Regions from separate parts of the Homo sapiens genome. Here region 2 is linked to region 1. A link means that fine-mapping ties the variant in region 1 to the expression of a gene that starts in the linked region. Tissue or cell type: sigmoid colon. Region 1 holds a variant in brackets; the other region holds the start of a gene. All regions are shown on one strand. Distances are from middle to middle.

Region 1 (8,184 bases):
GTGCTGAGCAGCAGGAATACAGCCCTGTCATCCATGTGCTTCCGGTGAATCCAGGGCACAGACAACCAGCAGGTGCTCTGATGACAGGGTGAGGCCTTTCAGACAAAAGGGACAGCACACGGAATTATTCTTGACTCTTTCTGTGCTCACAGTCCACATCCAGTCCGTCCATGAACTATGAAGCTGTTTCCACTTTGGGGCCATGATGAATAACGCTCCTGTGAACACGAGTTTTTTGTGATGTGATGTTTTCACTTTTCCCGGGTGTGCAGCTACGAGTGGAGTTACTGGGTCACATGGTGCCTCTGTGATCTGTCTGCACATACTCCATATTTTACTTATTAATTTTAGTTCTATCCTATCCTGTTTTCTCACCTTTGCTAAAACGCAAACCTCATGAAGGCAGCAAATTGTTTTCTGTTTTGTTTGCTGCTATATCTCCAGTGCTTAGAAAATAAGTCCTCAGTAAATATTTCTGGAATAAATGACTGAATAAATGTACAGAGGCCTGAGGGTGAAACATCCTTTTGTATTCAGGAAGCTGCAAGTCACTCAGGATGACTGGATTGTAAGATACAGGGGCTTAAAGGGCAATGCTGAGGTTGTGCATAGGGAACAGGTGAACTTACCAAGAACCATGGGCCTTAGGCATGCTCTCTTAACCAGGAGAGCAACCAGATCCATGGGGGCAATTTGTGTTGCAGGTTGTGGGATTCCAGCTCAAGTTAGCCTAAGCAAAAGAGGGATTCTATTGGTTCCCAAGACTTAAGTTCAAGGTAAGCAGTTGCTTCACCCCCTGTGAGATCCAGAGATGAAGATGATTCTCTTTCTCCCTCCTCTTCCCTTTCTCTTTCTCTCAGTCCCTTCTTTTCTCTCCCTCTCTCCTGTGGCCCCTCCTCCACTTTCCACTTTCCTGAATTCATTTGATTCCTGCCTGAGTTCTCTCCTCGCAGTGGCAAAATGGTCAGTGGAAGTTCCAGGCTTTCATCACCCCTTCAGCCTCCAGCACACCCAGAAAAACCAGGGTGCCCACTCTTTCCCCCACATCCGTGGGCATCTCCCGGAAGGTCTTTGATGAACCCCAGTTAGGTCTGAATCTTGTGCTGGATGAGTCACAGGGACACTATCCAGCCACAGTGGCTGGTCCCAGTAGTTGAGGGACCCTGAGAATTGTGTGGAATGTGGTGATGGGGAGTGTGCATGCGGGTGCACACATATAGGGTATTTGTGTGTGTGCACCGTGTACATGCAGGGGTGTATGTGTGTATGTGTATTAGGGTCTGGGTGTGGGTGTGGGGTGTGTTCAGGGAGTGTGCATACACGCATGGGTGCCTGGGTATGTGCACGTGTTTGTGTGTACGTGGAGTGTGTGTTTGTGTGTGCATGGTGTGTGTGCATATGTATGCACTGGTATGTGTGCATACATGGGGTGTGTGTGCATATGTGGAGGTGTAGGTATGTGGGGAGTGTGTAGGTGTACATGTATGAGTGCATGTGCGTGTGTGTGAAGGTGTGTGTGTGTGTGTGTGTGTGTGTGTGTAGCAGTGGGGTTGGGGAGGAGACAGTCTCCAGAAGGAAAGTGGGGGCCTATTAGCAGCAGTGTAGGGATGGGGAGCTGGGCAGTCAAACCCTTCGAGTCCTGATGCAGAACCTAATCAGAGCTGTGTGGCTGATGGATGAAATGACAACTCAGCACGGATGGTGGCGAGGAGATGTGCAGAGGGACATTAAGAATGGGAGCACCTAGTGACAGATGACACATAAAACATGGCCCAAGCAACTCCTGGGGAGCTGGCTGAAGGGACTTGATGTGGCCCGATATCACAGAGTGAACTAAAGAATAATGGAATAGAAGCAGATCTTGTTGAATGGCTTTGGTTTCCTGGTTTTGTTAACACATATTCTGACTTACTTTCAATTTAAGTCGAAAGGACCTGCCTGAAAACTGTGATCAGTAAACAGCCTGGTCATCAGAGCCGCTGTAAAGGGACCGAAGACACACAGTCCCTTTCTCTTTGAGGCTCGAGCACTAACCCAGAAACTGGAGAGGGCATCCAACAACACAAAGTTCCCTTTAATACATATGCACATATTTTAGTGTATATGTATATATGTAATAAAGTGGAATGCAGAAAGCAGGTATTTACATACGCACATATTTTAGTGTATGTGTACATACGTAATAAAGTGGAACGCAGAAAGCAGGTATTTACATACGCACATATTTTAGTGTATGTGTATATACGTAATAAAGTGGAATGCAGAAAGCAGGTATTTACATACGCACATATTTTAGTGTATGTGTACATACGTAATAAAGTGGAAAGCAGAAAGCAGGTATTTACATACGCACATATTTTAGTGTATGTGTATATACGTAATAAAGTGGAATGCAGAAAGCAGGTATTTACATACGCACATATTTTAGTGTATGTGTATATACGTAATAAAGTGGAATGCAGAAAGCAGGTATTTACATATGCACATATTTTAGTGTATGTGTACATACGTAATAAAGTGGAATGCAGAAAGCAGGTATTTACATACGCACATATTTTAGTGTATATGTATATACGTAATAAAGTGGAATGCAGAAAGCAGGTATTGTCTCAAATTCAGAATGGTTACAATTGATCATTTTTTCAGTTAATAGGTAAAGTTGTTCTGGAGTACATGGGATAATGAAATATGTATAAAACAAATAGGAATGGGTTGGCAAAAACCAACCCAGTGAGGAGATAAGCACTGATGACATTAAGATGAGTAATTTATACCCAAGGCTGAGTAATTTATAAAGAAAAAGTGGTTTAATGGACTCACAGTTCCATGTGGCTGAGGAGGCCTCACAATCATGGCAGAAGGCGAAAGCATGTCTTACATGGAGGCAGACAAGACAGAATGAGAGCCAAGCAAAATGGGTTTCCCCTTATAAAACTGTCAGATCTTGTGAGACTTATTCACTACCACAAGAACGATATGGGGGAAACCACCCCCATGACTCAATTACCTCCCACCGGGCCCCTCCCACAACAGGTGGGAATTATGGGAGCTACAATTCAAGATGAGATTTGGGTGGGGACACGGCCAAACCATATCAGGTAGGTAGGTAGGTAGGTAGATAGGTAGATAGACAGATGATAGATAGATAGATGATAGATAGATAGATAGATAGATAGACCAATAGATAGATAATTAGTTTTCTGTAGTTACTGTAACAGAGTATCATAAACTGGGTGGCTTAAAACAACAGAAATCTATTCTCTCACAGTTCTGGAGCTAGAAATCAGAAATTCAGGTATCCACAGGACCACACTCCCCCAGAGCAGAGGCTCTAGGGGAGAATCCGTTCCTCCCCTCTTTCAGTTTCTGGTGGCTCTGGTGTTCCTTTGCTTGTGGCCACATCACTCCAATCTCCACTTCCGTAGCCATGTTCCTGCTTCCTCTTCTCTCTGTCTCTCCTCCAAGTGTCTCTTATAAGGACACTTGTCAATGGATTCAGGACCCACCCACCTAATCCAGGATGGTCTTCTCATCTTGAGATCCTTCCCCTGATTATGTCAGCAAAGACCCTCCTTCCTGAGAAAGTCACATTCAGAGGTTCCAGGGATCAGGATGTGGACATATCCTTCTGGGGAGTAGCCATTCAGCCCACCACAGGTAGACAGACACTAGATATGCCTCCTATTCATATATTAGATTTTATTACATTGCACTCTGTCCAGTTTTATTTTTCCCTTCTCTTAGTTTTGTAACTACTGCAACTTAAGCAACTGTGAGTTGCCTGGGTTCATTTTACCATATCATTTTGCGTCACAAGCTCACAAAAGACTACA[C/T]TTTTGAAAAAATGATTGTCAAACCAGATGTGAGAACCTCACATGAGACACCCTATAATTCAAACCATGAGCCCTGCAGGCTGTGTTTCAAGAAGGACAGTCCTATAATAAAAATATTGTGTGTATTTCCCCTCGGCCTTCTACAGGTTCAGGTGCACGAAGACCTTGACACCTATGAGCCAAAAAGTTCCGGAACCTATTTGGGTGGACGTAGAGTGAGTACTTGCTTGAAATCTGTCTTTCTGCCAAGAAATAGTCACCATGCCCACAGCCCCAAAAGCATGTGGTTCTAGGTCACAGCCTGTCACATAAGGCATGTCTGTGGAAAACAGATTTTTACGAGTATCCCATTTCTTTAATCTTCCTTTCCTCCTTGTTGAAAAAAACTAAAAAAAGAAAGAAAAGTAATGTGTTTGTGCCAGTGGGAGAAGAATATTGATATTTTTTTCTGTTTAATTTCCAAAACGCAAAGTGCCTAAATAAAACTTGTGATTCTCTTTGCATCCCAGATTGGTTAGGGCGGAAGTTTGTTTCAATGAAAGTGTATTAAATAGTGGCTTAGTTGGCAGAAGGCAGCAAACCCAGAAGAAAGGGAAGAACATAAAAAGCACTGGAAAAGTAAGTGAAAAGTTTTTCTTTTTAAGTTTGTAGTAGGATAATATTTAAATATACAGGAGTTAAGTATAGTAAATATGTTTTTCATTTTAATTGATCAAACATCTCTCTTCATTGGTAACATATCCTCTTTCTTTCACTCAATGAAAATTCTGACTTGAGTTATAAAATAGCTAGTCATGATTTTTATTGCCATAGCTAGCCATATTTACGTCAATGTGCCACAATAAAACAGAGAGAAACGGTCATTTTTATGTGTAAAGAGAGTGAGCTTAAGCCATGTACCTCTCTCTGGCCACATTAGCATGCACTCGGCACAGCTACAGGGGCCTTACACGGCCCTCCTTGCACGGGAGACTCTAACATCTGGCTTACGTCTGTTTGGTCGGAAAAGTTTCTGTTTCATTTTATTTTTCACTTTATGCTGATACTTTTTGGCTTTTCCAAAAGTATTCTTGGGTTTTTAAAATATATATAGTATGGCCTCAAGTAGTTCCATATTTATTCATACACTGATGTAGCCAAGTTACATGAAGAGTGAAGGAAATGCTTCAAGAGAAAACCGCATCTTACCTCTCGTTTTTTTACTGAATATTTTGGACAAAGAGAATTTTTTTATACCAAGAACTGTATAAGTATCTCAATGTGTATCTTCCTTTTTTTCCTTTGCATTTCTGTTGAAATCTTCTTTACTTAAAAAAAAAAAAGTTGCAGTACTGCATTCCTTTAATAAAAATTCCATGAATAGGCCAGAATTCTGTAGGAAATCAAGTGAGCTAGGACTAGTATTATTCACTTATACTTACAGTTTAATACCATAGTATTAAATTCTCAGTTCCTATTATTAAAATGACATTTATATCCTGTTCAACTGCCTGGATAAAAAAAAAAAATCCATTCCTCGGAATCGTGATGCCCAAATGCAGAATAAACTATAATGCTTAGAATTAATTGCTTCTATTACTCAACAAAAATACAAAGCAGAATGTAAATGGTAAAGGTTCCAGGGAACAGCTGGAAAATATTGCCCTCTTGATAGAAGTTACCTTAATTGTGAAATAATTCCCAAGCCAGGATATCAGCTTTAAAATTTTGCTTTTCTGTCCCCTGGGCAATATTTTACTATTCTGGTCTAACTAATAAAGGTTACCTCAGTTGTTTATTTACAGTTATTGCTGTCAGTTGCCAAACCAATAAAATCCATAAACTCTATTATTTATCACAAGAAATCTGTGTGGTTTTATAGACGTATATGGTTATTTTTCTGTGCATTTTATAGGTTCTGTAACCAATACTAAGTCTCTAAACATCTAAGACAGCTTCTGCCCTGCGGGTACCATTTCCCAGCTGTTATATTAGACATTAGTCACTACTTATTTTGTAAGATTTTTAATTTAACATGTTTTACGACTGTACATTTCATTAGTATTCTATGCAGTCATGCAATTGGGTACCTACTGCCTGCCAGGTACTATGTGAGGTCTGGGGGATAAATAAACTCTTACTAGTTCAGGAAGATTCATGTTTCCTGATCCTGTGGACAGTGCAGCCCATCAGAGAGAGAAACCTCAGAACGGGGCAGTGAGAATAGACCTGCTAGCTTTTACTCTGTAGATCATTTGGAACAAAACCTCTTTACCCAGGAGGTCGCAATGGCAATTGCCACAGCTAAAAGGAAACAATAGAAATAAGACTTGGAGCCTGTAATCCCAGCACTTTGGGAGGCCGAGGCAGGTGGATCACCTGAGGTTAGGAGTTTGAGACCATCCTGGCCAACATAGTGAAATCTGGGTTACAAGTACATTTGAGCAAGCAGGCAAATTTGCAAATATGGAATGGCAAATAATGAGGATTGACTGTATATATGAGATATTTTAAAACATTTTTATCATAAAAATTTTCAAATCTGCACAAAAGTAGAGGGAATATTAACTTTTTTTCTATCTGGATCTCTCTCTTTTTTTTTTTAACTTCACCTCTATGACCCACGTATCTCCGGACAAGATAAAATATGTGCTTGCTCTGTTCACATAAAATAAAGCCTCACACATAGGCATGAAATATGCCTATGACCTAGTATTTGCCCAGTTGAGTTCTTCGAGAACACACCGGGGACTGTTGTGGGGTGGGGGGCGGGGGGAGGGATAGCATTAGGAGATATACCTAATGCTAAATGACGAGTTAATGGTGCAGCACACCAACATGGCACATGTATACATATGTAAAAAACGTGCACATTGTGCACACGTACCCTAAAACTTAAAGTATAATAATAATAAAATTAAATTTTTTAAAAAAAGAGAATCAGTTATAAACCAAACCATGCTGAACTCATGATAATGAACAAACAGGAGACAGGATGAAGAATTAGATACTGATTAGATACAAATACATGTAAAAGATAAGCCCTTTATTGGAAAAAGAAAATCAGGATAATAGATGGAAAAAAAAGAATGTATTCATCACAGATATGTAAATTATATTTCATGTCAATTAGAGTCCTACATGTGCCCAAAATTAACAAGCTTCCAGCAGCTGAACATGTCTGAAAAGCATTTTAGTGGACTCTAGACAAGCTAAGTAACACACTACAGAAAACTGACCAGAAAAAGTTGGCCCAAGTAAGTGTCCTGGTTGGAAATTTCCGATGTGAATGCAAATAAGGCTGAACGGGTGTGAATTACTGCTCCAAGAAACGCTATAATTCTAAACAAAAACCTCTTTACCCAAGAGTTCACAATACTAACTGCCAAACTAAAAGAAAATTATAATAATGGTGATAAAACCAAATTGGTAAGAAATAGATGACAAGAAGTTCTTCTTTGTTGGACAAAGAAATAAAAATTCTTTTTCTGTAAGTTTCACGCTTGTCTATTTTTAAAAATTTCTTCCCACAAGAGGTCACAGCTTAGTTAGGCCTCCTACCATAAAAATCTCAAAAATAATTTCTAAGCAGTTTTGTTTTCAACATCACAATCCTGAAATGAAATCAGAAATTGAAACATCTGCCTCATGCATGTGGATTTCAGACTCTGAACACATAACCTTACCAGGCTTTCGGAGGCTAAGGCGTTCTTACTGAAGACCACTTGGATTACCTTTCTTCCCTCTTTTGTTCATGCCATTCTCCATAGCAGGAAATGTATCATGTAGCATATCATTTGCCCCAAACCAAATTTTCCAAGTTACATGGTCATCATCTCCCTTATTCCTGGAACAGAACAGTGTTGCAAAGTTTGCCAACAGTAATTCAGGCTTGTGCTCCAAGTCGCTTCCTAGACAAGCCTGTCTTGACCGACCAATACCTGGTTTCCCAACGCTTCAATCTACGTAATGAGATGTTGCTGCCCTGTAGTGTGGATGGATGTTTGGGAAAGATGGAAGAGAGAAGGGTTTAGATGCAACCTTAATTATCTACCCCTGACTAGTCAGGAAAGATAGAAGAAATCAGGACGCTGGTTTTTGCGAGGTGAAGAAAATTTAACATTAGGAAGCCAGGAATCAAATAGGAGACCAGCCACGTGTTAAATACGGCTCTCCCTTAAAGCACCAGGACAGGGGAGCGGCGGGGACGGTCTTAGGGAAAAGCCGGGCCAGGATCGAATTGTGTGGTGGCTGGCTTGGCCCTTGGCTGGCACAGTGCTGGCTCGCCTCCTAGGCCATTCAATCTATCTTCATTTCTCTGGCAGTTGACATTTGCCTGCAACAAGGCATTCCTAAAATGATACGATCCAAG
Region 2 (8,184 bases), 140 kb after region 1:
GTGGTCCCAGCTATATAGAAGGCTGAGGCAGGAGGACGGCTTGAGCCCAGGAGGTTGAGGCTGCAAGTGAGTCTGGATGACAGAGTGAGACCTTGTCTCAGGCAAAACAAACCAAACCAAACGGTACACAAGTAAATACACATACTCTTGCACAAATGAGTACAAAAACTGAGGAAATCTGAATGAGATTGGTGAATTCTATCAACGCCAATATGCTGCTTGTGCTATTGCTCTATAGTATTTGAAGACATGACCATGTCACTCACTGTATTTCTTAAAAATACATTTGAATCTACAATTATTAGTTGAAAAAAATATTTATGAGACAGAGGAAGAGAACTCGGAGGGCCTTCAGTTGTTGATGTCAGGACATTACCACCATAGCTGAAGGCCAGAATTCAGAAAACCACTCCTGCTGCCATGCTGCTCCCCCAACCCAAGTGGCTCTCATGCCCATGAAAACGGTGACTAGACCCAAACTTGGACTCTAACTGCCGTTAATCCTCATGTCAGTTGGACCAGAAAGCAGAAGGATGGCTTCTGTTTCACTTCCACCTGCCAGATTGAGCAGGAACGCATCTAATTGACAAAGCTCAATTTGCTTCCTATATATGAGATGCAAAATGGTCTGGGACATGTGGCTTTGAGCACTCTAATTTTTCCAAAGAGAGTATGGAATGGGAGTTGAATGAGCATAATATCTACCATAACCAGCCACTAGCTATGTGGCCTTGGGCGAGTTTATTAATGTTTCCAATCCTCAGTTTCTGACTCTATGAAATAAAGATCATTATCATACTGAGTGTGGACAAACTCAAATTGTTTTTCCCCTGCTCTAACAAAACACCAATCAACAGAGAAGACTTCTGTGACCAAGTATGCATGGGATTTCTTCCCACCCACAAGCAGGCAATCAATTCTATAGGGCACACCAGCTGGGTGCCCTTCAATTCCATTCAACTCTGACACTGTCTCCTTGGAGATAGCATCAGATCCCACAGGTCAAGGGCTCAGTCCCCAATACTGTGCCCCCGCCAACTTCTGATGCCAATTGCAAGCCCCAGGTTATTCTACCTGTGCTTCTGACTGGCCAAAAAGTGGGCTTCACGTGACCCCCTTCTTAGGTTTATTAATCTGAAAGAGTGGCTCACGGAACTCAGGGAATCTCTTACTCAGGATTACCAGTTTACTGGTATGACAAAGTATATGACAAAGGATGCAGATGAGGAGATGTACAGGGCAAGGAATAGGAGGAGCTTGGAGCTTTGGTGCCCACCCTGAAGCGTCACCCTCCATGTACCTCCACGTGTTCAACTATCTAGAACTCTCTGCACACAGTCCTTTTTGGGTTTTTATGGAGGCTTCATTATGTCGGCATGATTGATTAAATCGTTGGCCGTTGGTGATCAACTTAACCATCAGCTTCTCTCTCCTCCCTGGAGGTTAGGGGATGGGGCTGAAAGTCCCAGCCCTCTAATCCTGCATTGGTCTTTACAATGACCAGTTTCCACCCTGAAGCCACCTAAGGGCTGCCAGCCAACAGTGAACTCACTCATTACCCTACAAAATACATCGCTTTGGTGATTCTAAGCATTTTAGAAATCATATGCCAGGAAAACAGAAATGAAGACCAAATATAGATTTCACCACAGCAGACGCACTTACCTCCTGGAGTTGGCTGAGATGCAGCACGCTGCCCCACACATCTCACACGCTCCCTCCATCCATGCTGGCCATTAGCATGGTTTGTGCAATCTGAGAAAGAAGATCAGCAAATGTTCCATGTGAAAAGCAAAGGAAAGAAATGTTTAAAAAAGGAGAGGAGAGAGAATTTTAAAGGGAATGCTGGAGAATCGTTCTTGAATAACTGGCATGCACTCAGTGGCAAGAGATGGGAAAGAAAGAAGTGAAAAATGTTATTCCACATATTTAGTCTTGTACAGAATGATTGACTTTTATCCAATTAGAGGACTTGGAGTTGGAGGCCTCACTCTTTTCTCTATATTTTGTATCATATTAAAACAAATATGAAAATGTTATGAAAAGTCATAAAATGATTCAATATCATATCCCTTTCAGATTATAGCCCCTTGAAGATTATTTCTCCTCTACTGCTATACCCTCAGCAGCTAGTATGTTTCTGGAGATTAGCCAAGTTTGTGAGTAAAGGTATCAGCATCAACAATTAGCTACCAAATGTATTTGCTTCTTCTGACATACCATGAAGTCACTGTATAGTATAGCCAGTGTCTGTCAGTTCAACCACCCGCTTGTTAACATCTTTCACTGGCCTCCTGGAGAAGGGTTACTCAGCCTCAGCACTATTGACATTTTGGGCTAGAAAAATCTTTGTTGTGGGAGCTTCCTGTGCACTGCAGATGGTGAGCAAAATACTTAACCTCTACTCATTAGATACCTATAGCACAACTCCATTTGTGACAATCAAAAATGCCTCCAGACATTGTCAAATGTCCCCTGGGGGCAAAATCACCCAGGGATGAGAACTGTGTTAGAGGAAAACACAACTGAGCCATCACCCTTAGAGCTTTCCACTACCGCTGGTCGCTTTACTTCTAGTTAATGTAATCTTCTTATGCTGCCCCAGACCCTGTGCTGACGTTGTTCAAGTTGCCCTAATGCTACTGGGAAAATGACAACAACCTCCACTACCAACCTCCTCCCTCCGAGCCCACAAACAGTTAAAAAAAAGAACCTCTTTTTCCCTCTAGCTGTCAATCATGGGTTGAATTTTGTCCCTCCCCCAATTAATATATTGATGTCTTAACTCTTAGTAGCTCAAAATGTGACTGTATTTGGAAATAAGGTCATTAAAGAGGGTCCTAATCAAATGTAACTGGTGTTCTTATAAGAACAGGAAGTTTGGACACAGACACACATACAGAGAGAACGCCATGTGAACATGAAGACAGCCAGCTACAAGAAAAGGAGAGAGGCCTCAGAAGAAATCAGCCCTTGATCCTAAACTTCCAGTCTCCAGAACTGTGAGGAAATAAATTTCTATCGTTTGTCACCCTATGGATGGTACGTTGCTGTAGCAGACCTACCACCTGTCTTCAGAAAAGTTCTCTAGAGAAATAGCCTTTATTCTTCAAGCTTCCTCTGACCTACCATTTCCCATCATTTTATAAATATTTTCAGGCCCTAATAATGTTGATTTTTTTTCCATTTTTCTTCTACTGTCACACACTTCTAGGGCAGGTGTTTGGTGGTGTGACAGGAAATTGACTGGTGTCAACTTCCAGTGTTTGTGTGATAGGAGGTCTCAAAACTACAGGATAAATGTGTCATATCTCCCATAAGTATCAGTTTTGCTCAGTGATTTTTTTTTTTTTTTTTTGAGATGGAGTTTTGCTCTTCTTGCCCAGGCTGGAACGCAATGGCAAGATCTCGGCTCACTGCAACCTCCTCCTCCCGGGTTCAAGCGATTCTTCTGCCTCAGCCTCCAGAGTAGCTGGGATTACAGGTGCCCACCACCACGCCTGGCTAATTTTTTGTATTTTTAGTAGAGACGGGTTTTCACCGTGTTGGCCAGGCTGGTCTTGAACTCCTGACCTCAGGTGATCCACCTGCCGCAGCTTCCCAAAGTGCTGGGATTACAGGCGTGAGCCACTGCGCCCGGCTTGCTCAGTGATTTTTTTAAGGAAAATGTTAAATAATTGGCTCATGCATTAATTTAAAGCGTATTTACATGAAAATGAGTATAGTTTTAGCATATTCCCGTATATTTCACAGACATTTCTAGCTTATAGCATGTTCCTCTCAATGGAAGTGTTCCCTCTCCTCAGCTTCAGGGTCTCTTCATCACTCAGAGGCACCATCAGATGTTTGTTGAGCCATTCTCCTCATAGAACGCAGAGGAGAGGCCAGGTGTGAAACCAGACCAGTCTATCTATAGCTAAGAAATATTCCTAACGGACCTCGAGGAGCGCGAGAGGGAGGTTTTAAATGTAATCCTGAGCTTTTCTGATTTTGGGGTTCCAGGTCTGCTATACATACTCTTGCACGTTATATTGGGCACAGCCCTAGTAACTCTGTGATTTGAAATGATGATCTGAAGTTATCGATTAGGGAGAGGAATGTGGACAGAGAAGCAGAGCAACGGAGACCGGGAAGTTTCCGTCTGTGTCCTGGATTGCAGCCAACTGCTTAGGCACACACACCTGCTGCCCTCCCGGCTCTGAGTCACCTCCTCTCCTCTCCCTGTCCAACGAGCAGCTGCCAAATGGCAGCCAAATCCAACAGATGTAAGCCGGGACCCCACCTGTGTTTGAATTACTTTCTTTGAAATCTGCCACGTCCAGGTTTATTGACCCGGGCAGTCTTTTCAACATTTCCTTATGCCGCATACGGGTGGGGCTAGGGACTTTCTTGTGCACTGGCAGTCCTCAGAAGAGAAAACTTTGAATTCAGCTATTTGGAACCTCGTTACTGGTTCCGAGCCTCAGGAAAGGCCAGAAGAGCGAGAGCCAGCCTAGTTAGTCACTCCCACATCTGTGACCCCCGTTTACGGGCCTTGTACGCTACTGCCCTTCAGGTACCATAAACCGGGCTTCTCAAAGGGCACTGCAACAGGTTTCCAGGAATTATTTATCAAAGTCCATGACCCCGGCCCTGTGACCCCTGGGTTTGAAAATTCAGACCTTCAGCCTAACGGAGAGGTCGGCTCAGCGTTCCTCCCAGCATCCTCGGGCGATATTAGGGTCCTGGGAGATTCGGGAGGCCACTGCGTCCAGGCCCCCCACGGCCAGCCAGGCGAGAGGCGGGACGCGAAGCCGCGGCCTCCTTCCTCTTCCCTGAGGCGGTGGCGGCGGCAGGCCCCGCCCCTCCCGCGCGGTGGCCGTCGGCGGAGGGGCGGGGCCTGCTACAGCGTCGCCGGCTGACGCGAATGACGCTGCGCCAGTCAGGCCGCAGCCCCGCTGCTTGGCCCGTCGGGCCCGCCTTGGCCGGCTCGGCCCGCCCCCGGCCCTCCCTGCACGGCCTCCCGTGCGCCCCTGTCAGACTGTGGCGGCCGGTCGCGCGGTGCGCTCTCCCTCCCTGCCCGCAGCCTGGAGAGGCGCTTCGTGCTGCACACCCCCGCGTTCCTGCCGGCACCGCGCCTGCCCTCTGCCGCGCTCCGCCCTGCCGCCGACCGCACGCCCGCCGCGGGACATGGCACACGCACCGGCACGCTGCCCCAGCGCCCGGGGCTCCGGGGACGGCGAGATGGGCAAGCCCAGGAACGTGGCGCTCATCACCGGTATCACAGGCCAGGTGAGTGCGGGGGCGGGGGCGCGCCGGCCGAGGCAGCCTGGGCACGCGTGCTCTCCCTACGCGCCGCTACTCGTGGGCTGCGGTCTCTCCAGGAACAGCCCTCTCGGCGTCCCGGAAGGGGTCTGCTGCCGGGAGGTGGGACGGAAGGTACGGTGCAGTTAGTGTGTTGCGTGTGGGGTGTGCGGGATACATCGAGCGCCTCTGGTCTTTCTCTGGGGGCTGTGAGCGTGTGTGCCGCGCGGGATGTCGCGCTCACACCCGGGCAGGACCGCCCGCTCTCACCTGCCCCTCAGGTGACCGCAGCGTCTCTTCCTCCAAGCCCATGTCGTGCTTCGCAGCTCCTAGTGCCGGAAAGGGAAAAGAACCGGTGATCAATGAACTTGCGGGTGAGGTCTTCTTGATGTGTCTCGGCTCAAGGGGCGCTTACCTGCTAACGTTTGGGAAGCAAGAAAAAGGGTGCTTTGCTGGTTTCGTCCCCTATCACCGGATTTCCAGATAGAAAAGAGAACATGAAAGAAAGTAATGCTGTGGAGTCACCTACTAGGACATGTTTAGGAAAAAGAACTTAAAAAACTTTTTAAAATCACGCCAACTTCTGAGATTCAGGTTGACACATTTGGAAGTGTATCCGAGGCACACTGGTCCAAAAGTGCGGCTAGTTCCATTTTCAAAGGAATAAGTTCGTCGAGTAAGGTAATCAAGAGGAGGTCTTCGGAATGTCTCAGGCTAAGCATGGCTGGTTTGTGAGGGTCGCCTCTTAGAGGTGTTGCAGTAGGTGGGATCCGACCGCTGTGTCTTACCAAGCTGTGCTGTTTTAGATTCAGTGGTCATGAAGTAATCGTGCCCACATATTGCTGTAGAAAGAATGTGATGTGTGTGCTCCTGGGTATCTCTGGGTGGTGGCCAATATAACACTGAGATAAAGGTGATAATGGCTAATACATATTGTGTCTATCATGTTCCAGTCGCTTGCCTAACATTAACTCATTTAGTTCTCATAACAAACTCTTTGAGGAGGTACTTTTATTATCTCTATATATGTGGAAACTGAGGCATGGGAGTTTGATTTGCCTGAGGTTAAACCGCTGGGAAGTGTCCAGTTGGTATTGAAACCACTCTCAAAGTTCTCTAGTGTTAGAAAGGGCTAAGTGGGCAGGAGGCAGCGGCTCATACTTGAAATCTCAGCACTTCGGTGTGCAGAGGTGGAAGGATTGCTCGAGGTGAGGCCAGGAGTTTGAGACCAGCCTGGGCAACATATTGAGACGTTGTCTCTACAAAAAAATTTAAAAAATGAGGCAGGCATGTTGGTGCTCACCTGTAGTGCTAGCTACTCAGGAGGCTGAGGCAGGAGGATCACTTGAGTCCGGGAGTCTGAGGCTGCTGCAGTGAGCAATGATGGTACCACTGTACTCCAGCCTGGGGCAAGAGAGTGAGATCCTGCCTCAAAAAAAAAAAAAAAAAAAAAAAAAAAAAAAAAGAAGGAGAAGTTGAAATTGGCCAGATGCACAGTCACAGAATATTACACAATTTCAAGTATTGAATACCTGATTTACTGCTGGTTATTCATGCATCTTGCTTTGCTTAAGGTAATCATAATAGACAAGAGTTTGAAAACTAGTAAGAGGTGGATCTGAGTTTGAAAACTAGTAAGAGGGCAAGGATCTGAGGTTGAGAAATTGAATCCTTGAATTGAGGCAGTAAGACAGGTCAGGGCCTACATACTGTCCTCCCCCTTCTCTTTGTTTTCTAATGCTGGGACCTTTCTGCAGATGATTCCCTTTTTTCCATTTTGTCAGACTGGACCTGAAGCTCAAATGTTTACCAAGTTTACCTAATCTCTGGAAAGTAGAGATTTTATTTTAGTATTGTCCGGAAATTAGTTAAGATTAACATCTTAACTAATGTGCTGTGTTGGTGTGGCCTATACCAATTTACACGACCAGCAGTATGAATCAGTGCAGATTAGAAATGGAACCTAATTTTGACTTTTAAGAGCAGTCATTTGGCTGGAACTGAGTGGCCAGGAAGGTATGGAAGTGGGCCCCCACTCTAGTTTGTCCTGCAGCCTGTCATGGGAGTCTACCTGAAGCACCACACTCAGCAGACCACTCCCTGACTGGAATTTTTTGGTTCCTCATTTCATTTCCAACTTAAAACACCTGCATGGCTTTCAGGTTGGGTTGAATCTCTGCCCCAGTGTTTCTTTCTTCCCTCCGGCATCTGCCCTCTGCATTGTCTCCTCATTTGGTGTTGCATTGGCTTCTGTACCCCTAGCATAGTGCTGAATTCTGTAGCTACCACATAAACACTTGCAGATGGAATTTACTGCTCTTTTATGTTTTTTATTTGTATTCCAGGACAGTGACTCCCAACTTGAGTATCAAGGATCTCTGGAGCACTGTGGTGTTAATGCAAGGGGTCTGAAAATCCATACCTTATTGTATGTTTTCTTAATAATATTGGCTGAGAACTTACTGAGCTATTCACTCTGCTAAGCATTTTGTATATCCCTACCTAAGAGACAGGTATAATAAGTATCCCCATTTATCCCTGGCTAAGTAAGGTTAAATATGTTCCCTGAGGTCGTACATCTAATGAGTGTCAGAACTGAGATCTGAACCCAGATCTCAGCAGTTGCTGTAAGTCATTTTGTTATACAGACTGTGGTGAGCCTTATGAGACAGAGAGAAATAAATAGTCTTACTCTAAGAAGAGATTTCAGATTCAAATGCCACTGCTCTGGCACTTGGGGCTATCATGGCATTTGTGCCAAGATGGGCTCTTAAATGGGTTGTCCCAAATTCCCGCTTGAGAATAGTGCGGACAGCCAGGGTGTCCTGTCTGCTGTGTATCTCTAGTACGTATTGTCAGGCTTCTTATTCTAGCCTTCCCCTCCCATCGGTTCTTGACACA

The links. PIP is the estimated chance that this variant, and not a neighbour inherited with it, causes the effect.
Region 2: it holds the start of GMDS-DT, and the variant in region 1 is fine-mapped to the expression of GMDS-DT in sigmoid colon (GTEx, PIP 0.98).

Annotation. Positions count from the first base shown.
Region 1 is chr6:2,382,329-2,390,512 of GRCh38, reverse strand. All of the region lies in intron 4 of GMDS-DT (GMDS divergent transcript), which reads right to left. Among named protein-coding and RNA genes, the nearest start is that of GMDS-DT, 140 kb to the right of the region's middle. The variant C/T (reference allele first, on the strand shown) is at 3,834.
Region 2 is chr6:2,242,408-2,250,591 of GRCh38, reverse strand. GMDS-DT (GMDS divergent transcript) reads right to left here and starts at 4,839. Exons shown (of 7, transcript NR_046229.1): 1 at 4,662-4,839; 2 at 1,666-1,755. It overlaps GMDS (GDP-mannose 4,6-dehydratase), which reads left to right and starts at 4,987. Exons shown (of 11, transcript NM_001500.4): 1 at 4,987-5,271. The coding sequence starts at 5,170. RefSeq lists a silencer at 4,715-5,344 and an enhancer at 4,845-5,345.